Homo sapiens: one gene and its partners. The protein of the gene in region 4 interacts with the protein of the main gene of each other region in a pairwise test. Each region holds a gene or a part of one and is shown on either strand. Other genes may lie near its edges.

Region 1 (5,685 bases), on a different chromosome or scaffold from region 4:
ATATTCTCTTATGAAATAGCATGAGAAAACACAGGGCATTTCTAGGACAGTAAAACGTTAAAGTACTGGATTAAGAAAACAACAACAGGCTGGGCGCAGTGGCTCACACCTGTAATCCCAGCACTTTGGGAGGCTGAGGCGGGTGGATCACCTGAGGTCAGGAGTTTGTGACCAGCCTGGCCAACATAGTGAAATCCTGTTTCTACTAAAAATACAAAAATTAGCTGGATGCGATAGCACGTGCCTGTAGTCCCAGCTACTCGGGAGGCTGAGGCTGGAGAGTTGCTCAAACCCGGGAGGCGGAGATTGCAGTGAGCCAAGATCGCACCGCTGCACTCCAGCCTGGGTGACAGAGCGACCCTCTGTCTCAAAAAATAATAATAATAATAAATAAAACAACAACAAAATGCATCAGAGAGCCAAAACATTCAGTATTGCATTTTCACATAGGTGATGAAATGACTTTGGAACTTTATCTGTGTTATAGTTATGAGTTGCTTTGGGAGACTTGGAGCTCTCTGTAGCTATTGTTCATAACACTTTGCTCCATAACCCTGATGTCCGCAGTATCTAAGTATCTCAGCCTTCATCCATTAACTCTACTAGGGAGCCCACAGCCACCATTTCCACTAGGAGGTATCAATATTTGTGGTATGACATAAGGCTCCCTTGAAATAACAAGACTTTTGAGCAATCTGAATTAAAAATACATCAAAAAAGTAATAGCGCTCATTTGCTAAATGCAAAAAATAATCACCTTTGATACCAATGTGCACCAATATGCCTAACTAGCTAGCCAGCTGGAGATAATTTACCAGGGAATGTTTCAAAGCCCTAACCTTGAAGTTTGGAAACAGGTGGTCTTCTATGCTGCAGAGAAACTATGCATTAGGTCTCTTTTCAATTAGAAACCTTTACTATTTCCAATGTATGTTTGTTAAAAATAATAATAATAAAACCAAAAGCCTTTGTGGAAACCCACTCTTCGTAGTCCATGTGATGGGATTGTTTTATCGTTTTCACCGGGTGCCCTCCCCACTGCAGGGGTGCGCACTGTTGTTGCAGGCTTGCTACCCACCTGTGTTTCTTAGCATTTCAGGAATTAAACCACATTCAGAACCCCAAATAACCTTTCCCCTTTCTTCTTACCCACTATCATAGGTGGTATTTTAATGAAGCGTCTGTGCCTTGGGTGCTATTTACACCAATTTTGGTAGGTCATACTATTTTGAGAATGGTCTTTTGATAGGGAGAAATTTCTAAGACCCATGGTAATAAAAGTGCAGCTCAAAGACATGGGACCTCTTGTCCTGCCCCATTTGCTGTTGTTTATGCAGCAGGAGAGAATAGGTCAGAACCAACCTTTGCACACTAGCTTTCTCCCACACAAACGGTCCATTTTAGCCTCTCTGTCCCACTTGCTATGTAAAGAGGAGGCCAGTGCTCGGCATAACTGTTCTGGTAGCGATGCTTGTTACAACTCATGATGAAATGTCCCAACGCAAGTGAGGACGCAGCTGCCCGCCCCAGAGCTAGAAGGTAAGGTGAGTTCTCTAGGAGTACATCTGCCCGGATGCATTTTCATTCCGCAGCCTTGATGAATGGGACGAGGCTTTGTTGTGACTGTTTTTTAAGCAGTCCCCCAGGGAATCACTGAAAATACCTACTTCTTAGAGAAAAGTTTCAAGCTCCCCTCCTCTCTTTTGTGAGGCAATACAAAATCCATCATCCAAATGAAAGATACTTTTCACAACAGCCTTTATTGCCTGCAGACTTACATGTATAGTCCTTTAAACAATTAACTGTTTAGAAAATGGTTGTTTCTCTCAACCCTTGAGCCAGTTATTCCACGCTGGTAAGACCCTTTCACAGAAATGTAACAAGGTGCATTTTATAGAAAACATCTAATTAAATCACCAGTTTCATGCTTTTAAGTTGTATCTACAAGTGCAAAACTGCAACACCCAAATGTTTTTAGTATCTAAGTCAGATATCCAAAAGTTAGCTCCATAATCAGAAATGCGCACACCACTGTTCTGATAATAAAGGCACATTTTCCAATAACCAATTATAACAAGAAGTGCAGCATTACCTAAATTGGGTGTGTCATCTTCCCCTCCTGGGTCACAGGATGACACCTGGGGATGCGATGCCGTGCCTGCACTTGGCGATCCCAGGAGCACAGAAATGCACCAGACAGATCATGAAGGGCTAATGCTTGGAAACCACACCATTTCCTGACAGAGTGAAGGAATCCCTGTGGATTTATCAAAAGGGAGGAGGGAATTTAAGCTAATTCTCTTCACCTGCTGTATTCTCAAATCTCCAAAACACCAGATAACTTAGGTTTTTTCATTTGTCATAGAACAAAGATTAGAGAACTTGAAATTCGTTTTGCATTTCCACTCCTCAGGGATGTCAAAAAAGCCAGTTCTGTTCCAGCACAAAGTAGAAAGTGGTGAATTGGCAATACGCCAAGACATAGACTGTTACAGTAATTCTTTTTGTTTCACAAAAGTTAATGGAAACAAAACAACTTTCAGATAATATTCATTTGTCAGTATGTATAATTTGCCATCCAAATGCTTTTTAAAAAGTTATTATCTTATTATTACACATTAAATTTACATGGAGTTGTCTCCTAATCCTGGGATTTTAACACCAAATGTTTAATTCTGAATACAAAGAAACATTCACATACTTAATTTTACAATATTCTGGAACAAGTTATATTCAAAAGTCAAATGAACAGAGAACATTCCACTTGCAACCAACACATAGCTGTTAACAAAATTAACCCCATTAATATTTAAAGACGGATTTATCCATTAATGCCTGTTTTAATTGTCACTTGATTTTGATGGTTAGAAACTTTGGTTATGGTAAAAATGATCACATGAGTGGGAATTCATTACCTCAAAGCTCAGGACCACAGCTCCCCATGTGCATGTTTTTCTGTCTGCAGTATTTCAAGGTGAGACAACAAAATAGACACCTAAAATTGTATGAGATTTTATTCCTGGTGCTTTTTCAGCGAGAACCATTTTTCCAGACCTAGGGAAGGAGCCTGTGTGTTTTTGGCCTGAAGGATTCATCAATTCAGAGCATCTGTGACAGCCAGGAGGAGGAAAGAAGGGAGGCTGGGATCACCTCCCGCCCCTTCTAGCATCTCTACTGAGAGTGACAACTCCAGGCTGTCCACCCCCATCCTGAGCCTTCCACACTCTTCTCCGTGCCACTAACACTCAGTATCTGACGCCTGCAGTGCGAAGCCTCCAGAGTCCCCAGACTGACCTGGGCACTCCACCCTTGCTGGTTCTACTTTACTTGGACACACGGGTACCTTAAGGCTTGTCACACTCCAACACCTTTGTGTGTGTGTGTCTTTATTTCTTTCTAGGTTATAAACTCAGGCAGAGGCCTCATACATTCACTTCTCTATCCCACCATCCCAGTACAGGGCCAGCCACATATTAACTAATGCACAAATGAGGCCAAGAAACTGGCTAGAAATCCCAAGAAACTGTGCCAAGTATATGCAGCTGCACCTGGGAATACACGAAAGCATGACATCACGAGCACAGCCTCCTCCACCACACCTTCCCTTTCTCCTCCTTCCCTGCTGGCCTCAGACAGCTATGCATGGCTGCATGAAGGAAGATCTAAATCTGGACTTGTTTTATCCTCCCCTTCCCTTCTTCTCACCTTTATTCTGCCTCCACCTTCTTCTTTCTTTGTCTTCCCCCACTGGCTTCTCTGTCATTTCCCACAGTGGGTTCCCCCAATCCCTGTGGTCCTCATGTCCTGTTCTTGTTCTCTTTGTGCTGGATCTCACATCCTACAGCATCCAGGACCATCCTCCATGGCTGATGCCACAGCCTGCCAATTCCCAAATTCTTCACGTTTGTTTGACTTCCTACTTAGCTGTAAAACCAAAGCCCAGGGAGGAGTCCCAAGGTGCACAACACAGAGCCAATCTGCGTGTGTACAGAGATGCAGATCCGTTTTTAATCAATGTAAGTATATGCGTATATGTATATACATATGCAATTCACATTCACAAGTCCTGGTATAAAGTTGCAATTTTTCTGGCTGCTATAAAATGTGCCAGTTTTAAAACTGTGCATTTGTTGCTTGCAAACTTATAAATATGTATAAACCCCATTATAAATAAATTATGGCTGGCAGATGGCATTTAAGCTGCCAGCAATGGTTGCATGGAGTTATAAATGCTTATTAATTCTCCACTTTTAAATTCACAGCACGGACCCTGGGATCTGTGACATGAAGTGGTGTGAAAGCATAATTATAAATTAGAGGGGGGAAAGCCATCAATAAGAGACAGGTAAGGGCTGGAAACTCTCACTAGTGAGTGGTTCTCAAAGTCAAGACTTCAGAGCAGCTGCACCAGCATCACCTCGAGATTTTTTGAAATGCAAATTCCCGGGCCCCACTCCAGACCTAGGGAGTCAGGAACTTGGCGGGGCCAGGGGGGTGGAAGGGCCTGCAATCTTTGTCTGAACCAGCTCACAGGGTGGTTCTGATGCCTGCCTTCCACTCGAAGTCTGCTTGTCACGAACGCCTGTCTCAGCTCAGGGACATCCCCGGCTTAGGAAGTATGCTCAGGTGTGTGCAGGGCCAGTCAGAAATTGTTTCCAGAAACAGCCTTTCATAAGTGATAGACTTGGTGAATAAATACCCCAGCTGTCTCCCCGCCTTGCTGGGTGAACTCTGGGGTGTCAGCTCTGTCTCTCGGGGTTCCCCGGTGGGATTCAGCTCCAGTTGTGCACATGACGGTAACTTACTTGATAATGCACGCCTTCCCCGTCAGCTTCCTTCTCTCCCTACTTCCGGGATCTTCACTCAAATAAACTACATAACCTCAAGTCCTCTCTCAGGGTCTCCTTCTGGAGGAACCCCAACTAAGAGGAAGTAGAAACACTGTCTCTCCCATCTGAATGACTCAGGCTTTTATGCATTTTGAGATGGAGCACAGATGTAGAACCCCTGGAGGGAAGCACTGCTTGCCATTTCCGTGGGGCAGGGGGCTAGCTTTACGTGCAGGCCCAGGACTGTGAGTCCTGTGCTCTTTTCTAAGTTGATCCCCAGGCCCTTGCATGGCTCCAGTTTCCTCTTCTGAAAAGCAGGGCCCCCTACTGGGCTGTCTTACCAAGCTCCCTTCCCTGTGATCCTGTGTGGAGCTGACAGTTCTAGGTTGGCACTATGTCCAGGAGTGGGTTTGTCCTCTTCATCTTTCTTAGAGCCAGCTTTGAAAGTTCCATGGGAGAACCTGAGTATTACTCTGAAACCCACTGCAAGGTCTGTCTGAGTCCTGCAATGACCTCTTTGCAATCTTTCCACAATCTTCCCACTCACTCCCAATCCTACTGTCACCGTCCACAGAAAGGGATTTATGGACAGCACACAAAGTTGGGCCAGCGAGAGAGAACCAATGGGCACGCTGGGAATGCACAATTTTAGAAAATCATTGCGCTTATATGTTTCATATATTTGTCAATCCCCAGCACGCCCTCAAGCTGGGAACATGTATAGCCCTGCAGTGTAGAGCACGCCAAGGCTCAGAGAAATCCAGCAACCCGCCTGAGTCCACGCCGTTCTGGGTGTGCCAGGGTGGAGGCTGGATGGAGGTATCTACTCGTGGCCCGCATTGCCTCTGCCCTGGAA
Region 2 (7,261 bases), on a different chromosome or scaffold from region 4:
CAAGGGCTTCGGGATGCCAGGTGCGCCAGGTGTAAAGGGGCCTCCAGGGATGCACGGCCCTCCCGGCCCTGTTGGACTGCCAGGAGTGGGCAAACCAGGAGTGACAGGCTTCCCTGGGCCCCAGGGCCCCCTGGGAAAGCCAGGGGCTCCAGGAGAACCTGGGCCACAAGGCCCTATTGGGGTACCGGGGGTTCAAGGACCTCCTGGGATACCCGGAATTGGAAAGCCAGGCCAGGATGGGATCCCAGGCCAGCCAGGATTTCCAGGTGGCAAAGGGGAGCAAGGACTGCCAGGGCTACCAGGACCCCCAGGCCTTCCAGGGATTGGGAAACCAGGCTTCCCAGGACCCAAAGGTGACCGGGGCATGGGAGGTGTTCCTGGGGCTCTTGGACCAAGAGGGGAGAAAGGACCAATAGGTGCCCCAGGAATAGGGGGTCCTCCAGGAGAGCCAGGCCTGCCTGGAATCCCAGGTCCTATGGGCCCTCCAGGTGCTATTGGTTTTCCTGGACCCAAAGGAGAAGGTGGGATTGTAGGGCCACAGGGGCCACCAGGTCCCAAGGGTGAGCCAGGGCTTCAAGGCTTCCCAGGAAAGCCAGGTTTCCTTGGTGAAGTAGGGCCTCCTGGCATGAGGGGTTTGCCAGGTCCCATAGGGCCCAAGGGGGAAGCTGGGCAAAAAGGTGTACCAGGACTCCCTGGTGTTCCAGGGCTTCTCGGACCTAAGGGAGAGCCAGGAATCCCAGGGGATCAGGGTTTACAGGGCCCCCCAGGTATCCCAGGGATTGGGGGCCCTAGTGGCCCCATTGGACCACCTGGGATTCCAGGCCCCAAAGGGGAGCCGGGCCTCCCAGGGCCCCCTGGGTTCCCTGGTATAGGGAAACCCGGAGTGGCAGGACTTCATGGCCCCCCAGGGAAGCCTGGTGCCCTTGGTCCTCAAGGCCAGCCTGGCCTTCCAGGACCCCCAGGCCCTCCAGGACCTCCAGGACCCCCAGCTGTGATGCCCCCTACACCACCACCCCAGGGAGAGTATCTGCCAGATATGGGGCTGGGAATTGATGGCGTGAAACCCCCCCATGCCTACGGGGCTAAGAAAGGCAAGAATGGAGGGCCAGCCTATGAGATGCCTGCATTTACCGCCGAGCTAACCGCACCTTTCCCACCGGTGGGGGCCCCAGTGAAGTTTAACAAACTGCTGTATAACGGCAGACAGAACTACAACCCGCAGACAGGCATCTTCACCTGTGAGGTCCCTGGTGTCTACTACTTTGCATACCACGTTCACTGCAAGGGGGGCAACGTGTGGGTTGCTCTATTCAAGAACAACGAGCCCGTGATGTACACGTACGACGAGTACAAAAAGGGCTTCCTGGACCAGGCATCTGGGAGTGCAGTGCTGCTGCTCAGGCCCGGAGACCGGGTGTTCCTCCAGATGCCCTCAGAACAGGCTGCAGGACTGTATGCCGGGCAGTATGTCCACTCCTCCTTTTCAGGATATTTATTGTATCCCATGTAAAAACAAAAAAACAAAAAACAAAGAAAAGAAAGAGATTTTATAGAAGAAAATGACACACCAAAAAATCCAAATGAAAAACATAATTGCTTCAAAACACTTACACAGTTGGAAAGTTATATGTAAGTGAAAATTTGGACCATTGTGTACAAATAAAAACTAAGATGCATGTTTAATACTCCACACAGCAGCCTGTAATTGCGAATGATGGGATAGAGTTATGTATCAAGTACTGACACTTGGTTGTACCCACTGGAATCATATTAGCTGTTTTATGTTATATGCTTCCACAGTAACCTGCTTATTCAGATCAGTCAAAATATATCAGTATGAAAGATCATAGCTAATGAAAGGCACTCACTCATATTGTTTACTTTAAAATATTTATAAATATGCCTTAAAGAAATACAAATGATAACAATTACATACCGTATTTACTTGCTTAATTTCCTCTGTATTTGTGTAGATACTTTGACATGGAATATATGGTGGGGAGACCCGTAGTGTTACCGCCCCAGTGGGAGGGGGCCCTGGGGACCCTGGTAATGCTTTAGTCAAAGGGATATCTCTCTTGTATCAGAGGCTGTGTCTTTTAGTAACAGGAGTCCTCGTCAGAATTGCGTGTCTGTTGTCTCTAAAAGAATGGGTGAACCAATCGGCCTTTGTGAATTTATTCAGTGCCTTCTCTGTACCAAGCACTGGGTAAGGCACTTTTGTGGAGCATTAGACAGTAACCCTCAAGGAGCTAGAGAACCGGATGGGAGACATGAGCAGTAATTAACTCACTTGTTCCCCAGAGTTTCTATTTGTTTTGATTTTCTTTTTCTGTGACTTATTTTCCTATTTTCTTTCCTCCATGTAATTTTCACTATGGCCCAACTAATATAAACACCTGGAAATTACAAGGAAAAAAAATTCTTCCTCTAATAACTTTCCAAATTTGTGGAATATTTATTTGTAATAGCAGTTATCAGTTATGCTTATATAGCATTAAAAATTCTCCTCCTTTGACTACACACACAACCACAGTGTGGTTCTAATCATGGAGATATCAGTAATTTTTAGTAACTGAATTTTGAGGACATTTCTCTGTTTAGCATGTATGCAAACTGATATGTAATCTGAGGTTCCAAAGTCAATTTTTTTCTTTTTTTTTTGAGATGGAGTCTTACTCTGTCACCCAGGCTGGAGTGCAGTAGCACGATCTTGGCTTACTGCAACCTCTACCTCCTAGGTTCAAGCAATTGTCCTGTCTCAGCCTCCCGAGTACTGGGACTACTGTCTTGCGCCACCATGCCTGGCTAATTTTTGTATATTTAGTAAAGATGGGTTTTCGCCATGTTGGCCAGGCTGGTCTCAAACTCCTGGCCTCAAGTGATGCACCTGCCTCAGCCTTCCAAAGTGCTGGGATTACAGGCATGAGCCACCGTGCCCGGCCAAAGTCAGCTTTCAAAATCCAAGCCATAATTGGTGAGGGGGGAGTTTCAGAATTACATAGAAAAATTAATATTTGAAAAAATAATTCTGAAATTTCGAATTTAAAAACAGATGTGCTGCTTCTGGGTGTAGGTAGTAAAAGTATAGGAAAAGAACTGTTTCCTTAGAAGCGGACTGTGGAAGGGCTATGTAGAATGTCAAAGGGCAACAAGAGCCTGTGTTTTTAATGTCATCCTGTACTCGGCACAAATCAAAGGCCAATACAAGTCTGAAAAGCAGAAATAAATATTTTTCCAGGTTTTTGCTTGGGCACATACTAACTGCTTTGGGCATTCTAATCTGGTCTCCAAACACCAAAGACCCATTTCGAGCCTGCTATTAGCCTGCTGCTGACTCTATCACTTGGAGCAATAATGTGGGGTTATGGTGGTGGAATCTTGTATATTTTTGTCAAAAATAAAACCATGAGTTAAGGGGATAGATATAGATGGAAAAATACACAAATAAATACGGTATGAAAACACATGGAAATGTGTCTTTGTCAAATCTGAATCATTATTACCATCACAAAAATTCTTCTCTTGGCCAATATCTCATTTCCCTATATAGTATACAAGCACCATTTCTTCTCAATTTTTAAGAAGAGAAATTAGTCCATTACCACAGGGGTTCTTGTCACTACTAATTATACAACAATCTTTTCCCAACAAAAAGATGTCCTCCACAACCTTTGTTTTCAAAGCAGACAGCATCTATGTGGCCAAATATACTTTGGGTTGTTCTTGAGGATACTGGTTTTGGGCTGATGACTATGGTGGGCAGCATGGATCCATTGGGCTCCTTCTGCTAAACAGCCACATTGAAATGGTTTAAAAGCAAGTCAGATCAGGTGATTTGTAAAATTGTATTTATCTGTACATGTATGGGCTTTTAATTCCCACCAAGAAAGAGAGAAATTATCTTTTTAGTTAAAACCAAATTTCACTTTTCAAAATATCTTCCAACTTATTTATTGGTTGTCACTCAATTGCCTATATATATATATATATGTGTGTGTGTGTGTGTGTGCGCGTGAGCGCACGTGTGTGTATGCGTGCGCATGTGTGTGTATGTGTATTATCAGACATAGGTTTCTAACTTTTAGATAGAAGAGGAGCAACATCTATGCCAAATACTGTGCATTCTACAATGGTGCTAATCTCAGACCTAAATGATACTCCATTTAATTTAAAAAAGAGTTTTAAATAATTATCTATGTGCCTGTATTTCCCTTTTGAGTGCTGCACAACATGTTAACATATTAGTGTAAAAGCAGATGAAACAACCACGTGTTCTAAAGTCTAGGGATTGTGCTATAATCCCTATTTAGTTCAAAATTAACCAGAATTCTTCCATGTGAAATGGACCAAACTCATATTATTGTTATGTAAATACAGAGTTTTAATGCAGTATGACATCCCACAGGGGAAAAGAATGTCTGTAGTGGGTGACTGTTATCAAATATTTTATAGAATACAATGAACGGTGAACAGACTGGTAACTTGTTTGAGTTCCCATGACAGATTTGAGACTTGTCAATAGCAAATCATTTTTGTATTTAAATTTTTGTACTGATTTGAAAAACATCATTAAATATCTTTAAAAGTATGTTTCTCATCTTGTTCGTATCATTCAGTTGACACTGAACCTCACAAGTATTTTTAAATTCGTACTCTCATGAATTAGCTGCTGAAATAGAGACCTAAAATAAGCATAGCTTATACAGAACAATTTATTCCTCTTTGACTTAAGAGCTCCTAGGATAAGCAGTCTAGGACTCACATGGTAATTCCAATCACAGCCCCAGGCTCCTTCCATCTTATTGCTCTTCTACATCAAGGGTGTTGCCCTCATCTCCATGGTCCAGGATACTAACCATCAGTCACATTCTATCCCCGGGGAGGATGAACAAAGCAGGAAGGACAGGACATGCTTTTTGTCTTAAAGGACTCAACCTAGCAGCTGCTTGGATCACTGTCTCCCACATCCCGTGGCTCCAAATTTAGTCACGTGACCACAAGAAGCTGTAAGGAAGTGTGGGAAATTGAATAGTCTATGTAACCATATGCCCAGCTAAAAATCAGGGGTTCTAGTAGTATGGGAGAAGAGAGAATCAATATTAGGGAATAATTAGCTGCTGCATCTTCCACTTCCATCAAAAAAGAAAAAATGGCCACGGACTTCTCTTTTCCCACAAGAGACCAATCTTCAAATACTCCATTCTATTTCACTCTGCCACAAAAAAGCCAAATATTTTGAGGGGAGATAGTGGTGAGTGGAGGTAAAGGGAAGAAGCAGACCCGTTTGAAGAGCCTGAGGGTCTTAGTAAGACCCTGAGAAGAAAGAATTATTTTGTGATGACTTACCAATCCCAGAATGATCATAACTTACCATGTCTAAAATATTATAAAGGGATTATTCAAATCATTCAATAAGCAAGATGTACCACCAGTCTATGGCTGGTTAACTTACTTGTTTAAACCATCAGGCTGGAAACGCAAGACTACAACTTCCATTCCCATACAGCCCAGTTGGTTTGGTTTTATTTCACAGCCAAATACACTTCCCTCACAGTCATCTTACAGGCATAGAGTGTTGTCACAAAAGTGAATGGAAGAACAGATAGAGGAAATGGAGGCAAGGAAGAATAAATGGTTAGAATTTGGAATTCTGAAGAGCAGGGCAAATCTATCATTACTGTTACTAAATAAAGGAAATCAAAATACATCTTACAATGGGTGTATAGTACCCCTTTATATTAAAACAGAACACAAATAAGGTAGCCCCTACTTGGTGCCTGATACTACTAAGCAATGTGAGGCATACAAAAGGAGAGAAAACATCTCTTCTCCTTAAAAAATTATCTTCTGGGCCAGGCGTGGTGGCTCACACCTATAATCCCAGCACTTTGGGAGGCTGAGGTGGGCAGATCACGAGGTCAAGAGATCGAGACCATCCTGGCCAACCTGGTGAAACCCCAACCCCATCTCTACTAAAAATACAAAAATTAGCTGGGTGTGGTGGTGCGCACCTGTAGTCCCAGTTACTCAGGAGGCTGAGGCAGGAGAATCGCTTGAACCCAGGAGGCAGAGGTTGCAGTGAGCCAAGATGGATCCACTGCACTCCAGCCTGGCGACAGAGCAAGACTCTGTAAAAAAAAAAAAAAAAAAAAAGTATCTTCTGGTTGGAGGATATCAAGATGTTTGTTAAACAGAAAATTGATGTCCAAGAGCAGAACCTGCACAGAGCAGGGTGGTGTGATGTTGACTGGATTCATACGTGCTAAAGAAATTCAGAAAGAGAAAGACAGTTCCATGCTGCCCTCTTCCAGGGAATACCTTCTCTGACCTGTCTGCTGGGTAAACTCCTCACCCTTCAGGGTCATTTTCTCCCCCACATCACCAACCTGCCTCATACTTTCCTCTGTCCCTTCACTTTGTCTGCTTTGTAACTGAACCCTTGTCTTTCCTATTATAGTATAAGCTTCTTGTGAGCAGGCTAGTTCTTTCATTTTTTCATCCACAGCCCATCATAGAGTAGTGGTCTAATACCAGGATGAGGAAAGAATGAATCTCTGAAGAATGCTGTGGGGTAAGGGGTGGGGGCAGGGAGTCCTAAACTGGATGTGAGGTTAGACTGAATGGCAGGAAACTCTCTTCTAGCTCAGGTATTCAAGATTGTGTAAAAGCTAACTATGCGATAAAAATTTCAACTGCTTTTTGGAGAGCTGACTTTTAAAGAAATGTAGAATTTGGATGGAGGGATCATGAAAGTATCCCAAGAGAAACAGCTTCTCCTCCTCTAATCAAGAGGAGAAAAACTAGGCGTGTACGTGTATGTGTCTTGAGTGGCAGGAGGAAAGGAAGTTGAGCTCAGGGAAATGGTCTGACTAGATCAGAGCATCTACCCAAGGACTAGTAAAGGAAATTAATTTAGTAACTAAAGGAAGGTCAAGTGACACAGTGCTTTACATACAAGGAAGAGACATTTCTATTTTTAATATGCAATAAGATACTATAGGTCCTTAAGTGGGAAAATGGCATAAAATAGGTATTTTGGAAAAATTATTTCAACGATGCTATGAAGCTGACACTGAAGAAGGCAGGTTATACGTAGTAAAACCAATTAAAAGACCAGGCCATCTTTTATGCAGAAGTGAAATGTTGGGTGATGGTGAAGGACCCTAAATAGACCTTGCAAGTAAGGAGGTAGAAGCAGGTAGGTTCAGGTGTCAAGGTTTAAGGGCTGCATGACAATGAAGCTGTTTCAGGGCCTCAG
Region 3 (11,103 bases), on a different chromosome or scaffold from region 4:
AAATCAAATGCACTTATGTTATACCTTAAAACTATGCATTGACCTTTCCAAAGCACTTCACAAGCTTGTCCCTCAGTGTAGGGCAAGACAGTATTGTTACTCCTCTTAAAAATGAGAAAACTGAAGTTCACCCATGCCAATCTCCACATGGGCACATGGGGGTAGTGGCCCAGCCAAGATTAAAGTTGGGTTCTCAGATTCTAAGCACCATGCTTCCTGTTTCTTAAAATATATGACTGCCCTCTGGAAAGCGGTTTATCTATTACACATAATGGTGGTGATCCACCTGTGGCCGCCTTTTCTACACTCAAACTGGGCTTCCAGTTAAAATACAGAAAATACCAGTTCATTCTGACTGTCTCATTTTTTCTTTCTACAGGTTTTGGTTTTTATGATGAACAACTCTGAACATACACTAAAACTGACAATACATATAAAAAGCCCCTAAGTCCCCCATCCCCAGTCCCCATCACCAGTTGACACAAAATGTCAACTACCAGCAACATTTTGTGATTGGCCCTATGAGTTGTTTCCTATAAATCTTACCTAATACACACCTGGAGAACATCTTGGTAAGAGAAGTGACCTGGTACTTTTACTAGGGATTAAAGTACAGTTCTCTAGGTTTATAAACTTCACACTTCTTACACATCTCAAGTGTTTTCAGCCTAAGCAAATATTTCATCTAGTGATAGCAATAATGGTATCTAATCACCCCATTCAACTAACTCAAGCTAACTTTATGGAAATGAAATCAAAGATGCTTACACCTGGCCCGGGCCGACTGATCCAGAACTTGGGCTAAGATACTGTTTCTCATTTCTGCTTCCCTACAACGAAAACATAGGTCAAACACAATTAAAACACAGCTGTCGGCATTCCCATGTAACATACGAGAAAGAACCCATCCAGTATGTGTCTCCACATGGGGCCTGCGGTATACAAACTGCATTATGGTAGTTGCTGTACATAAGGCTGCAGCTACATTCAAGTAGAATCCCCTTTTGCCCTCAAAGAACCAGCTTTATATTACACAGGTGACAACCTACCAGGCTGGAAGGTGAGCTTTACAGTTTCATCAGAGTGGAGCCTCAGTTCAAACACCATCACCAACATTTCTTAAGTACCTATTGCGTGACAGGTGCTAGAAATTTATAGTGGGATTTCAGGCAATTAGAAGGACCATGTGACTAATCTATATCATTTTCTTAGAGATAAAGCTGAGATCCAGGAGGCTATGCTAAAGAGACATAGGTAACTGTGGCCAAGCTACAGCCAGATTCCATGTTTTAAGACTCTCAGTTCTATTTTTCTGGGTGGGGAAGGGGAATGAAATTATAACTTTGCAACTATCCTCACTTCTTCCTACCTACCCAAATAGAAAGTAGTTCACGTTCACAGGACAGTGGTCTCATGGACTTGTTTCTTTTTTCTTTCAAATGAAATCCTTTAAGAAATCTAAAAACAAATGAGCACAGATGCTTTGGCTCAACTGAGAGGGAGAGCTGGGGCTGGCTGTGCCCACTATCCACTCCCAGCTCAGAGGCCCTTCGGTTCATGGAATGTGGCTTAAAGCTCATTTCCATAGGCCACTTCTTTATGGTTTGAGTACTGCAGCCCTGCCACAAACTTTAAGAGATGGGGTCTAGGCCAGGCATGGTGGCTCATGCCTGTAATCTCAGCACTTTGGGAGGCTGAGGTGGGTGGATCACTTGAGGTCAGGAGTTTGAGACCAGCCTGGCCAACATGGTGAAACCCCATCTCTACTAAAAATACAAAAATTAGCCGGGCATGGTGGCGGGTGCCTGTAATCCCAGCTACTTGGGAGGCAGAGGCAGGAGAATCGCTTGAAGCTCAGAGGCAGAGGTTACGGTGAGCCAAGATTGTGCCACTGCACTCCAGCCTGGGTGATGGAGTGAGACTTCATCTCAACAACAATAAAAAAAGATGGGGTCTCACTCTGCTGTTCATGCTGGAGTACAGTGGTGCAATCACAGCTCACTGCAGCTATGATCAGCTCAAGCTCCTGTGCTCAAGTGATTCTTCCCCCTCGGCCTCCTGAGTAGCTGGGTCTACAGGCTTCAGTCACCACACCTGGCCTGCCACAAACTATTATATCACAGAACCCTAAGATGCCATCAATTCTAAGATACACCATAGTTTTACGTATCTCTAAAAATGAAAAACCCTAAAATGAGAGGTCTAATAGAGATCTCCATTCAAAACTGGGGTTTCTCGGGAGGCCAAGGTGGGAGGATCACTTGAAGCCAGGAGTTTGAGACCAGCCTGGGTGATATAGCGAGGCTATTAAAAAAAAAAAAAGTTTAAAAAAATTAGCCAGGCATGGTGGTGCACGCCTGTCATCTCAGCTCCTCAGGAGGCTGAGGTGGGAGGATCACTTGAGCCCAGCAGGAGTTTGAGGCTGCAGTGAGTTCTGATCCCACCACTGGGGTATCAAAGAGCAACATTCTCAGTACAAAGTAAAGAATAAATAAATATGCCATGCAGTAAGGGGCAGTACAAAAGCTTGCATGCACCTGGCCCTGACGTAAAGAAGAAAAAAGTTCAGTCTTACAGGGTTGCTGTCTGAATTCACACTACTAGGCAGGAGGCAGGGGAAAACCTCAAGCAGAGAATTTAACTTTCAATGGTCTCAGAAATGTACTCAAGTGATAGCAGAGTCAAAAGTAAATCCCCTCTGGAAGAATCTGGGGCAAGAGCAATCTGTTTTAAAAGGCATCCTGATTTCAGATATGTGACAATGAAAAGATGTACACGGCAGAAATCAATGAAATTTGCGTCGTTTTACTTCCTATCACTACTCCAGATACTTCTCACCGTCTGTCTTCTCCCGAACCCTCCCTTCCTATTTCTGTAGACCCAGCACAGTGCCTGACCCAGAGCAGGTGCTCTATAAATATTTGCTGGAGAGGAGGAGTAAGAAGGTGAGGAAGGGGAAATAGAGAATTGTCCAGTAGCTAAAGGTTTCAGTCTTGCAAGATGAAAACATTCTAGAGTGTGAACACTACTGAAGAGCACACTTAAAAATGGTTGTGATGGTGAAATTTTATTTAACCACAATTTTTAAAAAATGATAGCATGATAGGGTAATCACATACTCATTCAATAAACCTGCCACCGAATCAATTACCTGCATCTGTCTCAGGTGCTGTGCGCTGTGTTGGGATAAAACAATCAGAATAGCTTACCAGTTAACACTTATTGAGCACTTACTAAGTGAGGCACCGGACTCACGTCACCCCCACAGCCGAGGAAACTGCCACAGCTGCCTATTATCAGGCTCATTTTTAAGGTACTCACATTGTAGCAGAGAAACATCAACCAGTAATTGCAATACAAGGTCTGATGTGGAGCTGCACACGTGTTTATTTAACAATAATGAAGATACCCTGCGGATGATTTTGGCCAAATCACCATTCCAGCAAAACAAAAAAATCTGAGTCACACACCTGCTTAAAATAACTACAGCAAAAGAAATCCATTTGGTGAAACCACCCTTCAAAAAGTTCACGTTTCCAGCCCATACCTGTGCTTTGCTTCCTGTTGGGCCGCATCACCAGGATCCTGGAAAAAAAAAACTTAAATTTAATAGAGAAATTTCACGGGAGGCGGCGGGAAAAAGGAACGGTTCTGTTGTTTCCTATACATAACAGTCTCTTGCGGTGGTAGAAACAACTCCCCAAATAAGAAACTGGGCCTCACAGAAATCAATGAACTAGTTCCCACTTACAACGTTTTGATGAACGTCTAAAACCACAACCTCAGAAGGCTTTGGAATACAGAGCACCCTGGGGAGGGGAATCCCTGTATTACGAAACCGTGTTTCACATGTAGGAATAATTTCTGGAAAATAAAACGGGCCTCGGTATTAGGGACAACGATAACTCAAAGACTGCGCCCTCCGTCCCTAAGGTCCCGGTCCCTTATCAGAAACGCCTCTCCGGGCGTGTGATCCATCCAAGCTTCCCAGGCGGCCCCTCCCTGTCATCCCGGCGGGGCAAGCGTTCCTCCGACCCTGCCGCGCTCTCAGCACCGGGAACACAGCGGACCCTCAATACCTGTCGGCTAAACTTGGGTCATAACAACTGAACTCCGGAAAAACTGAATTCGGTCCGGCTGCTGGCTCCAAAAGCTGAGATTGTGCTTGGATCCAGGCCCGCCAGGACGAGCCCGCTCCAGGCTAGGGGACCCCACACCCCAACGCCAGGGCAGGTCCCGCACGTGGCGGCCCCCGCCGCCAGCCTCCTGGGCCCCTCGCGACGAGGAAAGCGACGAGGCCACCTCTGAGCCGGCCACGAGGCCGCCAGGGCAGCGCAGGGGACCGGGGCCCCGGGGAGGCGCCCAGAGCCTCCGCCCCGGAGGCGCGCCCTACACTCCGGGCGAGGGCGGCGCCCCGCGAGGGCCAAGCCTGGCGGGGGCTGATGCGCTCACCCCGTGTTTGGCCTGCAGCTCGGCCAGCCTCTGTCTCCTCAGCGCCTCAAGCTCCTCGTCCGCCATGGCTCGGCGTCAGCGCTGGAGCAGCCGCGGTCACTCTCGCAGCCCCTCGGCGCGAGCGCGGCCTTGACCACTGCGCAGGCGCTCGCGGGGCCCAGGCGCCACCAATCCAGCCCGGAGCCACGCCCCGCGCCGCTGCCAGGGCGCCGGCAGAGGCCCGATTCCCCGATTTCAGGCGGTCGAGCTTGGGCGCACGGAGGGGCGGGGCCTGGGGCGGGGCCTCCGGGATCCACCTCCCACCCGTGATCGGCGCCTCTGCGTGCAGGGACTTGGGCTGCGCTGGGGCGGGGCTGCGCTTTGGAAAGGTTAAAACCTGAAAGTGTGGCATCAACAAGTATAATAATTATGGGTGCAATGTGCTGGTGACCTAGAGGGTTAGGCGTATATTATCTCTATTTATAGATGAGGAACCAGGGGCGCAGGAAGGCTGAGTGGGGTGATGGAAATGTCCTAAAGCTGGATCGTGGCGGTGGCTGCCCGGCTCCTCGGTGCACACAGAGGCCGGCCGGTGGCTCGCCGCCTGTGGTCCCGACGCTTCGGGAGGCGGTAGGGTCATTTGAGGTCAGGAGTTAGAGACCAGCCTGGGCAATATGGCAAGAGCCTATCTCTACTAAAATTTTAAAAAACTAGTTGGGCGCGGTGATGTGCACCTGTAGTCCCAGCTACTCAGGAGGCTGTGTCAGGAGGATCGCTGGAGCCCGGAAGTTCGAGGCTGCAGTGAGCCTTGATCTCGCCACTGCACTCCAGCCTGGGAGACACAGCCAGACCCTGTCTCTAAAAAAAAAAAAAAAAAAAAAAAAAGTGCACATCTGCCTCCTCGCCATCTGCCTCCTCCACGCACAAAAGGGCTTTTCCTGGGAGGATACTGCAGTGGGCAGCTGTGGCTGGTGTAAACTCTTTGGTGGAACAAATCCCTTCTGCCTTTGACTTGGGGGAATTGGGGGCAGAGAGGATATTCAGCTACCTAAACGTGTGACTCATACAGATTCTGTTTGTTTGTCTGTGTGTGTGTTATTTTATTTTTTACATTAAAAAAATACAGATGGGGTCTCGCTATGTTGCCTAGGCTGGCCTCTATCTCCTGAGCTCAAGCAATCCTTTTGCCTCAGCCTCCCAAACTGCTAACATTACAGGCATGAGCCACCACACCTGGCCTGTGTGTTTTAATTGTGGCAAAATATACACAATACAAAATTTACCATTTTCACCATTTTTAGGTGTACTTTTCAGTGGTATGAAATGCATTATCGTGCAGTTGTCACTCAATCTCAGCTCACTGCAACCTCCACCTCCCGGGTTCAAGCGATTCTCCTGCATCAGTCTCCCAAGTAGCTGGGACCACAGGCGTGCACCACTGTGCCCGGCTAATTTTGTATTTTTTAGTAGAGATGGGGTTTCACCATGTTGGTCAAGCTGGTCTCGAACTTCTGACCTAAAGTGATCCACCTGCCTTGGTCTCCCAAAGTGCTGGGATTACAGGCATGAACCACCTTGTCCACCATCAATCTCTACAACTTTTTTTTTTTATCATCCTGAACTGGAACTCTACCCAGTAAAGATTTAGGTTGGTGTGAGGGGCCTCTAATGGGAATGGGTGGGGGTGGGAGGGGTCTGAGAATAATAATCAGTCTCCACCCATTCTCATTCTAGTTTCTATGAATTTGCCTATTCTGGGTATCTTGTATATGTGGAATCATACAATATTTGTCCTTTTGTGACTGGCTTACTCCACCTAGCATATGTCTTAAAGGTTCATTCATGTTGTAGCATGTGGCAGAATTTCTTTCCCTCTTTAGACTGAATATATTCCATTGTATGGATATACCTAGCACATTTTGTTTATCCATTCATCTGACAATGGACACTTAGGTTGCATCCACCTTTTGGCTATTATTAATAATGCAGCTATGAACATGGGTGTAGAAATATCTGTTCAGGTCTGTGCTTTCACTTTTGGATATATACCCAGAAGAGAAATTGTTGGATAATGTGATAATTCTGTGTTGAGGAATGGCCATACCATTTTCCACAGCAACTGCACTATTTTACATTCCAACCAACAGTGAATGAAGGTTCCAATTTCACCGTCTCCTCACCAATATTTGTTGTGTTCTGTTTTTTTGTTTGTTTGTTTTTTGATTGTTTTTGATAGTAACCATCCTAACGGGTATGAGGTGAGGTGTTGTGGTTTTGATATGCATTTCTCTAACGATTAGTGATGTTGAGCATCTTTTCATGTGCTTGTTGGCCATTTGTATATCTTCTTTAGAGAAATGTCTACTCTAGGCCAGGTGCGATGGCTTACTCCTGTAATCCCAGCACTTTGGGAGGCTGAGGAGGGCAGATCACTAGGTCAAGAGATTGAGACTATCCTGGCCAACATGGCGAAACCCTGTCTCTACTAAAAATACAAAAATTAGCTGGGCGTGGTGGCACGCACCTGTAGTCCCAGCTACTCAGGAGGCTGAGGCAGGAGAATCACTTGAACCCGGGAGCCGGAAGTTGCAGTGAGCCAAGATCGCGCCACTGGACTCCAGCCTGGTGACAGAGCGAGACTCTGTCTCAAGAAAAAAAAGAAAAGAAAAGAAAAGAAAAGAAAAATGTCTCTTCTAGCCCTTTGCCCATTTTAAAATTTGCTTTTCTTTTTTTGTTGTTGCGTTGTAGTAGTTCTTTACATATTTTAGATAATCCCTTATCAAAGTATATGATTTGCAACTATTTTCTCCCATTCCATGGGATTTACATTCTGTTGATTGTGTCCTTCAATGCACAAAATATTTTAATTTTCATAAAGTCCAACTTACCTATTTTTTCTTTTGTTGCCTTTGCTTTTGGTGTCATACCCAAGAAATAACTGCCAAATCTAACGTTATGAAGCTATTCTCCTGTTTCCTTCTAGAAGTTCTATAGTTTTAGCTCATTATGTTCAGGTCTGTGGTCCATTTTGAGTTAATATGGCATTAGGTAAGGGTCCCACTTCATGTTTTTGCATGTGGCTATCCAGTTTTCCCAGCACCATTTGTTGAAAAGACTGTCCTTTCCCCACTGAATGGTGGGGACTGTTGCATACCTCTTATCCTAGATTTTCCTTCCTTGCCATCTTGAGTTTCATCCTCTATTTCTTGGATTCCTTATGCTCTTTCTTGGTTTAACCCTTAAGTTTGTTGAAACACATTTTTAAGTAATTGTCTTTAAAAAGTCTGTGATAGACAAATTTTCTATATTGTCATATGTCTAAATATTTAATTGACCATAACACTTGACTAATTCATGGTTGGTTATAGACTTTTGGATAAAATATTTTCCCCTCAGAATTACTTTAAATTAAAATATAATACAAAATGTTATTTTTAATTTACCCTTCTAACTTTGTTATATATTAGTAATTTGTAAAATTCCTTACTTTACATTGTGAAAACCATCAAATCTATAAAAATTGGAGGAATAGTACAAAGAACGTGTATATATCTTTCCCATACATTCATTAATCATTAAGTTTGCCACATTGACTTTATATGTCTACACACACATACATACGTGTGTGCATATGCACACACACACACACAGTTTTTTTGAACCATTTGAAGGTTTCAAATATGTCAGTTCACTCCTAAGTGTATATCCTAAGAACAAAGATATACTCATATATAATATAATTATTGTACCCAATACATTAATATAGATAAAATAGTATCATCTACTTGATGTAGCCCACATTTGTCTCTCCAGTTATTCAAATAACCTTCACCACCACTGTTTGTTTTCTTGTCAGTTCGTGATCCAGTTGTGTTTAGTGTCCACTCCCTTTGGAGTATAAAGGTACATCTCATCTGTCTTCTAGCATTTGGTGTTCGTGATACAAAAATCTGATTCCTATTCCTTCGTGAGTGGTGTTTTTTTTTTTTCTCTTTCTGAAAGCTTTTGGTCAAGTGTGATGACTCACAGCTGTAATCCCAGGACTTTGGGAGGCTGAGGTGGGAGGATCGCTTGAGGCTGGGAGTTAGAGACCAGCCTGGGCAACATGATGAGCCTAGTGAGAACCCTCTCTCTACAACAACTTAAAAATTAGGGCATGGTGGTGCATACCTGTAGTCCCAGCCACTTGGGAAGCTGAGGTGGGAATTGCTTGAGCCTAGGAATTTTCCTGGGTGAGAGTGAGCCCCGAAAGAGAGAAAGAGAGAGAGAGAGAGAGAGAGAGTGAGAGAGAGAGAGAGAGACAGAGGGAGGGAGGGGAAGAAAAGGGGAAGGGGAAGGGGAATGGGAAAGGAAGAAGGAAGGAGGGAAGGAAAGAAAGAGAAAGAAAAAGAAGAGAAAGAAAAGTTTTAGAATCTTTCCTTTTCCTCCCAGGATTCTGAAATTTTGCAAAGGTTTGGGCCTTTTAAAAGCCCTTGTCCTGTTTGCTTGGTAGATTCTTTTGATCTGGAAACTTCTACCTTTAACTTTTGGGCAATTTTGTTTTGTTGTCCATTTGATACTTTTTTCCTCTTTGATTTCTATCTTTCTCTATCTGGGACAACTGTAAACTGGGCCTCCTGGATAAATCTTTCATATCCCTTTTCTTTCATGTCTTCCATCTCGGTCTTTTTGTCCTACTTTATGGAAGGCTTCTTCTGTTTTATCATCTGACCTTTCTCTTGAATTTATTTAAGCCATTATATTTTTATTTTATAAGAACACTTTCTTGTTCCCTTATTGCACCGTTTAAAAATTTATTTATTTACTTATTCTCCTTACTCTGTTTATGCAGCATTATCATGCTGTTTGCGTACTATCTTGTTCTTGATTTTTGAGTGTAATAACTTCTTAAATATTGTTATAATAATAATTGGAAACCAATTAAACATCCTCTTTCATTTCCTGAGTTAGTCCTCTTTCTTTTCAGGTTGTTTTTATACCTGATTATTTTTCTTGGCCTCTGTTGTAAGGGTACCCAGGATTTGTTTAAATTAGATATGCGAAGACATACAGGCACGGAATTGACGGTCATGAAGGAAAAAGCTTAGATTCACAGACCGCCAGAAACAGGAGGCAGGGCACACCACACAGGGGCCAGGGGCAGTCACGAGGCAGAGGGAAGAGGGTAAAAGTGGACGAGAGCCTTTTTTGTGAGTTCTGTGAGAAGGAACAGGTGAGGCAGATACGCAGGCTCAGGATTGGCTAGTTTGAGTAATTTTTGTGGGCTCTGCTTCTAATAGTCTGGTACTGGGCCCTGGGGTGACTAGGGCAGAGAAATAGTTGCCCTGAGTGTAACAGCCCTGTGAGGGCCCTGAAACGGAGGTGGTTGGGGAATGACTTCTGGATTGGCTGGTGTGCATCTGAAAGCTGTGCTCACAGGAGAGTCACTTACTATCTTTAGGATGTGGCTAGCCCTGGGAGGGACCATCCCTCCAGGGTCAGCAAGGCCCCAAGATGTCAGAGCATCAAAAACAGAAACTAGAAAATGCATGGTGCATAGATACCATGGAATACTATGCAGTCATAAAAAAGAAAGAAATTATGTTCTTTGCAGCAACATGGATGCAGCTGGAGGCCTTTATCCTAGGCAAATTAACACAGAACAGAAAACCAAAAATTGCATGTTCTCACTTATAAGTGGGAGCTAAATCTCGGGTGCACGTGGACATAAAGATGGAAACAACAGACACTGCGGACTCTGACAGTGAGACGGAGGGAGGAGGGGAATAGTTGAAGAACTCTCTGTTGGGTACTATGTTCATTATATAGGTAACAGGATCAATAGAAGCCCAAACCTCAGCATCATGCAATACACCTGTGTAACAAACCTGCACGTGGACCCCTGTATCTAAAATTTTAAAATAAGAAAACATGGTTATTATAGTCTCTCCCACATGCCATAGGCTGTCATTAGATAGTTGGTGGTCCTTGATTAGCCTGTTCATTTTTTTGGGCGGGGGGTGGGGAATGGAGTCTCGCTCTGTTGCCCAAGCTGGAGTGCAGTGGTGCAATCTTGGCTCACTGCAACCTCTGCCTTCCCGGTTCAAGTGATTCTCCTGCCTCAGCCTCCCCAGTAGCTGGGACAACAGGTGGGCACCACCACAGTCGGCTAATTTTTGTATCTTTAGTAGAGATGGGCTTCACTGGATTGGCCAGGCTGGTCTTGAACTCCTGGCCTCAGGTGATCCACCCGTCTTGGCCTCCCAAAGTCCTGGGGATTACAGGTGTGAGCCTCCACGCCCGGCCTAACCTGTTCATTTTTAAGGAGAAAGCAAGAAAGATTTGATTAGGAACTCCAAGTGTATGGGTGGGTTTATTGACTGGTAAGAAGCCAGCTGAAAGGCTGAGCTCTGTGAACCTGCTGTTATAAGTGGAATTATGTCCCTGCAAAAAGACACGTTGAAGTCCTTACCCCCAGTATCTTAGAATGTGACCTTGGAAATAGGGTCTTTACAAAAGTAATCAAGTTAGAATGAGGTCATTGGGGGTGAGCCCTAATCCAGTATGACTGGTGTCCTTATATAAAGGGGATATTTGGTCCAAGCACGGTTGCTCACGCCTGTAATCGCAGCACTTTGGGAGGCCAAGGAGGGCGGATCACCTGAGGTCAGGAGTTCGAGACCAGCCTGGCCA
Region 4 (6,024 bases):
AGTCTTTTTTTTTTTTTTTTTGCTAGAGTCAAAACGTGAGACAAAAGTTTCTGCTCCCAATCCCAAGTTCTGGAATATTGGCCGGCAGCAGCACCCTGAGTCAGCAATCCCTACTGTGCACAAGACATAGGCTTTTGCTAGTGACATAAATTATGAATCACAGGATGCTAGAATTGGAATGACCTGGAAAACACATGCAAATGCCCAAGTTTCCCTGTTTACAGAAAAATACTTCAATGGCTATATCCTGCAGCTATTTAATTAGCAGAGCCAGGGTAAGACAACAGTAAACTCTCAACTGTGCCAGATCCTCTTCTAAGTGTTTCACACATTTGCTCATTTAACCTCATATCCACCCTGTGAGGTAGGAACTCTTACTATCTTCATTTTCCTCACGATGAAACTAAGGCACAGAGAGGTTAAGTAACTCCCCCAAGGTCAGACAGTGGTTCAGTCAGGGTTTAGGTCCAGGTTGTCCAATCTGGTATCCCAGCCTCTTAACCACTAGAAACCTTTGTAAGGGTTCTAATGAATTGAGATTTTAAAAATGCACATTGAGGCCGGGCACAGTGGCTCATGCCTGTAATCCCAGCACTTTGGGAAGCCAAGGCAGGCGGATCACCTGAGGTCAGGGATTTGAGATCAGCCTGGCGAAACCCCATCTCTACTAAAAATACAAAAAGTAGCCAAGTGTGGTGGCACATGCATCCCAGCTACTCAGGAGGCTGAGACAGGAGAATTGCTCGAACCTGGGAGGCGGGGGTTGCAGTGAGCTGAGATCACACCATTGCACTTCAGCCTGGGCGACATGTATATTGAGGTCTCAGCTTTAAGGTTTCTGCTTGGCTTTTTCTCTTTGTTTTAAAACCTTAAGGTGAAATATTTAAACACGAACAAAAAGTAAAATCTATCCACTGAATGGACTGAATGAAAACATCGTACAAACCTCCCCCTTGAGAGAAAAGGATTTTAGTAACATCTTTGGGGTTTTTGCCTCTTGGTTGGGTTGCTTAGGGATGAGAGCTAGAGTTGTCTGCTCTAAATTATAATGTATTGGGGTGAACAGAATATACCCATCAACAGGATATGTGCTATGCATAAAATATCTCTGGGAAGTTTGAAAAAAACTAGTAATATATATTGCCTACCAGGGGGGTTGCTGAGTGTTTGGGCAGAAAAAGGAGACAGACTGTTCTAGTACATTTTGTACCTTTGGAATTCACAGCCATGTAAACAGATTATCTAATCAAACAACACAAATTAAAGACAGGCTCCTGCTTGTCTTGTTGTGAGTACGCTGCATGCCTGTACTTACTGCTTTGAATCCTATTTTTTTGGTTCTTACAACATAACCATTTTCTCATGCTACTGAAAGTTTTTCATGAACATGAGTTTTATGCAAACGTTCTTGTTAAAAATCTGAAGAAATCGGAAGACTCCCAAAACAGGTAACTTCTATTTCTCAATCTCTCACTTTTCTTTGGGATTTGTCATTATTGGGAATCACAATTTATATATTCAGAATCTCCCATTTCTGAAGAATTCACCAATGTGTATTAATCCTATCCTAGGTTTAGAACACAATACTTGGCATTTTTACCGTCATTTTCCTCATCGAATCCCCACAAGTGCCTGAGGTAGATATTGTCATCTTCGTTCTGTGTAAGGGAGCAGAGGGTCAGAAGATTCAGGCAGCCCAGAAATCACAGGGCTTGCATCTGGATCCAGAATCTGGACTGTGGGCTTCATGCCACTTTCTCCTTACCAAAATGCCACCAGTTGGTCTGTGGCACTTTCAAAGGCAGCTTTCCTGCCCCACAGTGCACGTCTCTAACCATACATGCACTCAACAATCATTTATTTATTTTTTTATTATGATTTTTTATTGAGACGGAGTTTCACTCTTGTTGCCCAGGTTGGAGTGCAATGGCACAATCTTGGCTCACCGCAACCTCCACCTCCTGGGTTCAAGTGATTCTCCTTCCTCAGCCTCCCAAGTAGCTGGGATTACAGGCATGCGCCACCACGCATGGCTAACTTTGTATTTAGTAGAGACGGAGTTTCACCATGTTGGTCAGGCTGGCCTCAAACTCCCAACCTCAGGTGATCCACCCACCTCGGCCTCCCAAAGTGCTGGGATTACAGGCGTGAGCCACCGCACCCGGCCTCAACAATCATTTATTATGGTCCAGCAACATCCACAGATTTGGGGCCTGAAAGAGGAAGATGACATGCTTCCTGCACTCCCAGGTCTGCAAGCAGAAAAGACAGCGAGGTGCTCTTCCACAAAACAGGCGGCATGCAGTGGCAGCCCAGGGAGCCCCGGGCAGGTCTGGGAAGGCACCTCCGAGCTGACAAGGGGGACTGAGCGACAATAAAGGGAGGGCGACAGGCGCTGCAGGCAGGAGGAACAATGGGACCCTGCACCCAGGAAGGCTGGGCAGGGTCTTTGTAAACAGTGGTGACCGTGGTTGCAGGAGTCAGCCGGGGAGGGGTCTCGAATGTCACTCTGGAGGTGGGAAAACTCCCGCCACTGCCCCATCACTCACCACAAGGGTCACGAAAGACTTCCACTATTGTGATATTGAGCAATCAAATACTGTTGAGAGAAATTTCATCCCCCACAAGCAAGAGGAAGCAAAAAAGGAAATGGCCCCTGTGCACCTAATTCTGACCAACTGATACCTGGTGGCTGACGTGGACATGACTGGGAGCCTGGAGGTTACTGAGGCTCTCGTGTGCTCTGAGACTCCAGTTTCTGAGGTGCTCACACTGCTCAGACATTCAGGAGGTGGGGAGGGGCCCCACTTCTACAGATGAGAAAATAAGATCAGGCAGGCAGTGTGTGCCCCAGGAGATATCACGTAAGCGGCAGAGCCAATATGATCAGGAGAGCCAGAGCAACCAAGGTCAGGACATTCCAGTGACAACGGGCCCCTGGTGAGGGCAGGTGGCCTATTTCAAGGGTAAACAGGAGCCTGGTCCGGCTGGAGCCATGTGTGACGGGACTGAGAAGACTCCGGGTATAAAGGCAGAGTGCAGTGACAATGTGCCCTGAGAGCTGCCCTGGAGAAATGCACTGCAGCGGGTTGGAAATGGGGTCTCTCCAGGTGATGGGAACATGAACGATGGTGCATGTGGAATGGATGCAAAAGTGGGAGAAACTGGAGAACGGGGGCCTTCCCAGAGAGCTGCTGCTTTGAGCCTGGACACAGTAATGAGAAGGAGAGTGACGGGGTGAGTGGAAGGCAAGGGCAGGAGAGGGGCTTCAGGGAAGAATTAATGAACTCGTGGACTAGCGCTTCCTGCCAACAGAATAACTGCCCCATCCCTGAGCCAAAACCCCGAACTTACATGGACCTAAGGGCAGTATCAAAAGTGAGATTTCTAGGATACATGTACAACAAAAGAAAAAATAAATAAAAATTGGACATCATCAAAATTAAAAGCTTTAGTATTTCAAAGGACATCATCAAGGAAATGAAACAGCTCACGGAGAAAAATTTTATAATCATATACCAGTTAAAGGGACTTGTGCCAGGCTATAAAAGGACTCTTACAACTCAATAATAAAAAGACAAATAACCCAATTAAAAAATGAGCAAGTGATCTAAAGATAGCTGTCCTAAGAAGATATGCAAATGGCCAATAAGCTCATGAAAAGATGCTCAATATCATTCGCCATCAGGGAAATGCAAACCAAAATCACAATGAGATGCCACATTACCCCTACTAGGATGGCTAAGTTAAAAGATAGATAATAAAAAGCACTGAGGGATGTGGAGTCATCAGAACCCTCATGCCCTGTTGATGGGATATAAAATTGTGTCACCACATTGGAAAACAGTTTGGGAGTCCCTCAAGGGTTAAATAGAGTTTCATATGATCCAGCAAATCTGCTCCCAGGCATATACCAAAGAGAAATGAAAACATATGTCCACACAAAAACTCATACACAAAAGTTCCTAGCAGCATTATGTATAATAGTCAAGAAGTAGAAACGATCCAAATGTCCACCAATCGATGCATGATAAATAAAATGTAGTACTACCATTCCATACAATGGAATATTACCCGATGAAAAAATAAAGTTGAACACATGCTACAACATGGATGAACTTTGCTTATAAGAACATTGAAAAGAAAATGCCAAAAGAAAAATGAGTTTTAGCTCAAATTTTTTTTTAAGAGGCCTAGCCTGCTCAAGTTATCCTGTTAAAAAAAAAAAAAAAAAAAAAACTCTTCCCATATCTAAGGTGAAAATAAAAAACATTTTTAAAAGTTTAATATAAAGAATGAAATAATTTCAGGTCAAGTTTATTATACAGAAATTATATTAATGGGTGGGATAAATACTTTACAGGAGAGGGTCACACTCTCAGACACTTTGGCTCCCAAAGGGCTTGGAGCTTTTGTGAGGCTGAGCATCTTCCAACCAGGTGCATGCACTGGTTTGCCAACATCCTCACCACGCCCAATCCAGCCCCTTCACACACTGACATCGCCTACCTGGGCCCTCCTTGTGGCCTTAAGTTTTATCTAACCAGTGTACACAACATATTTATAACCAATTAATACGTGTGAGTCATGATTTGTTTAAAATGTCAGCTTTTGTGAACTGAAGGGGATGGGCAGAAGGCAGGATGCTGTCCTTGGTCAGGAATGTGACCCAGATTTTAACACTGCTCCTAGGAAAAAAAAATATTTCCTTTTATGATGCCACTTCCTGGGACATGATGAGCTGAAGATTAAAAACTCTTCAGAGATGTGCGAGAAAAAACAAGCCCAGGGAAAAGTCTGCAGGCATGGTGGAGGAAGAAATTAGGGATGAAATCGCAAGTGGCAGAGCAAGCATGACCAGGCTGAAGTCAGCAGAGACAAGAGGGCAGCGAGGCCCAGCCTCCTCTTCCCTCTCCCACAGCGTTTAGGGCCACGTCCATGGCGCCACCCCTCTCCTTTCTTCCCAACTGAAAAGGGTGCCCTCTTTCCTTCTTTTCTGCAGACGCTGATGAGAATTAACCAGAGGAACTTCCTCCACAGCAACTATAACAGGACATCCTCATCCAGTCCTCCTATCTCATTTCCTGGTGGGGAAACAGGCCTGGCAAGGAAATAGGCCGAAATCACGATTTAAAAAATGTTGTGTTTAAGTACTCTGGAACCCTGTGTTCAGAGGAAATCGTGCAAGAATAGATCAATCAGAGCTGATCTGATGGAGACGGAGGATCCAGCCACACAGAGGCCCTGCATTAACTGTATTTCCTGTACTCTTGATGCTCTGGTATCTGGGGCCTCGCTGACCTGGACAGACTGATCCTCCCAGGCTAGCCAATCCCCCAATCCCTAGAGATGGCAAGCATCTGGCTGAAAGCATGCCTTTCCTATGGAAACCAACTAATCCGGAGCGATGGCGCCAGCTGCCTCCTTCACATGGCTCTCCCAGGGCTGTCACACCCCAGGCCAACATTCACCTGTCCTGACTATCCCGGGGCCAGGTATCAGACAAAAAGGGCAGCCCCTATCCTGAGAGCCACTGAAATTACTCAAGCCAGCTACCCTTAAACCTGTCTCCCCTGCTTACTCTGCCTTGCCCATTTCCTCCTGAGGAAACCAGAGGAAGTCTCTTGCCCACACGTTCCCCTCCCTCCTTCCGCCTTCTGACCCACCGTGGGGCTTTCCTATGTGGCCCCTCCTCTCAGAACCGTAAGTAACAAACTCTCCTTTCCATGGCAGTCCCCTCCTCATCCAATGGCTTTACCACACCTCGATGAGATGGTTTACAACAGGCCCATTCTAGAAGTAAACATTATTCCCAGAAATCCTGGAATAGGGATTCAGAAAATTCACATTGTGGAGGTGCCACGACTCGGGAGAGCCTGGCCAGCGAGGTGCCACCCGAATAGCTCCTGACCATGGGCACAGAAGGGACCAAACATGGAGAGAGGCACAGCCTGGAGTCATGGAAAAGGACCAGGCAGGACAGGAGGAAGAGCCTGGCAAGGAGGCAGGGGCGCAATAGTGCCC

What was found.
Region 1: the proteins of TRIM35 (region 4) and SHC3 interact in binary tests that used the Homo sapiens proteins (3 or more experiments, as listed by UniProt).
Region 2: the proteins of TRIM35 (region 4) and COL8A1 interact in binary tests that used the Homo sapiens proteins (3 or more experiments, as listed by UniProt).
Region 3: the proteins of TRIM35 (region 4) and PDCD5 interact in binary tests that used the Homo sapiens proteins (3 or more experiments, as listed by UniProt).

Annotation. Positions count from the first base shown.
Region 1 is NC_000009.12:89,004,030-89,009,714, forward strand, and holds the end of SHC3 (SHC-transforming protein 3), read right to left. Parts: 3' UTR 4,149-5,685; coding exon of another isoform or gene 3,489-4,148; 3' UTR 1,742-3,488; downstream 1-1,741. Other genes in the region: uncharacterized protein LOC124902206, read left to right, coding at 3,489-4,148. UniProt on the Homo sapiens protein: Signaling adapter that couples activated growth factor receptors to signaling pathway in neurons. Involved in the signal transduction pathways of neurotrophin-activated Trk receptors in cortical neurons.
Region 2 is NC_000003.12:99,794,627-99,801,887, forward strand, and holds the end of COL8A1 (collagen alpha-1(VIII) chain precursor), read left to right. Parts: coding exon 1-1,510; 3' UTR 1,511-4,591; downstream 4,592-7,261. UniProt on the Homo sapiens protein: Macromolecular component of the subendothelium. Major component of the Descemet's membrane (basement membrane) of corneal endothelial cells. Also a component of the endothelia of blood vessels.
Region 3 is NC_000019.10:32,574,677-32,585,779, reverse strand, and holds the start of PDCD5 (programmed cell death protein 5), read right to left. Parts: upstream 4,591-11,103; 5' UTR 4,519-4,590; coding exon 4,453-4,518; intron 3,586-4,452; coding exon 3,548-3,585; intron 831-3,547; coding exon 769-830; intron 1-768. UniProt on the Homo sapiens protein: May function in the process of apoptosis.
Region 4 is NC_000008.11:27,281,450-27,287,473, forward strand, and holds the end of TRIM35 (E3 ubiquitin-protein ligase TRIM35), read right to left. Parts: 3' UTR 3,437-6,024; downstream 1-3,436. UniProt on the Homo sapiens protein: E3 ubiquitin-protein ligase that participates in multiple biological processes including cell death, glucose metabolism, and in particular, the innate immune response.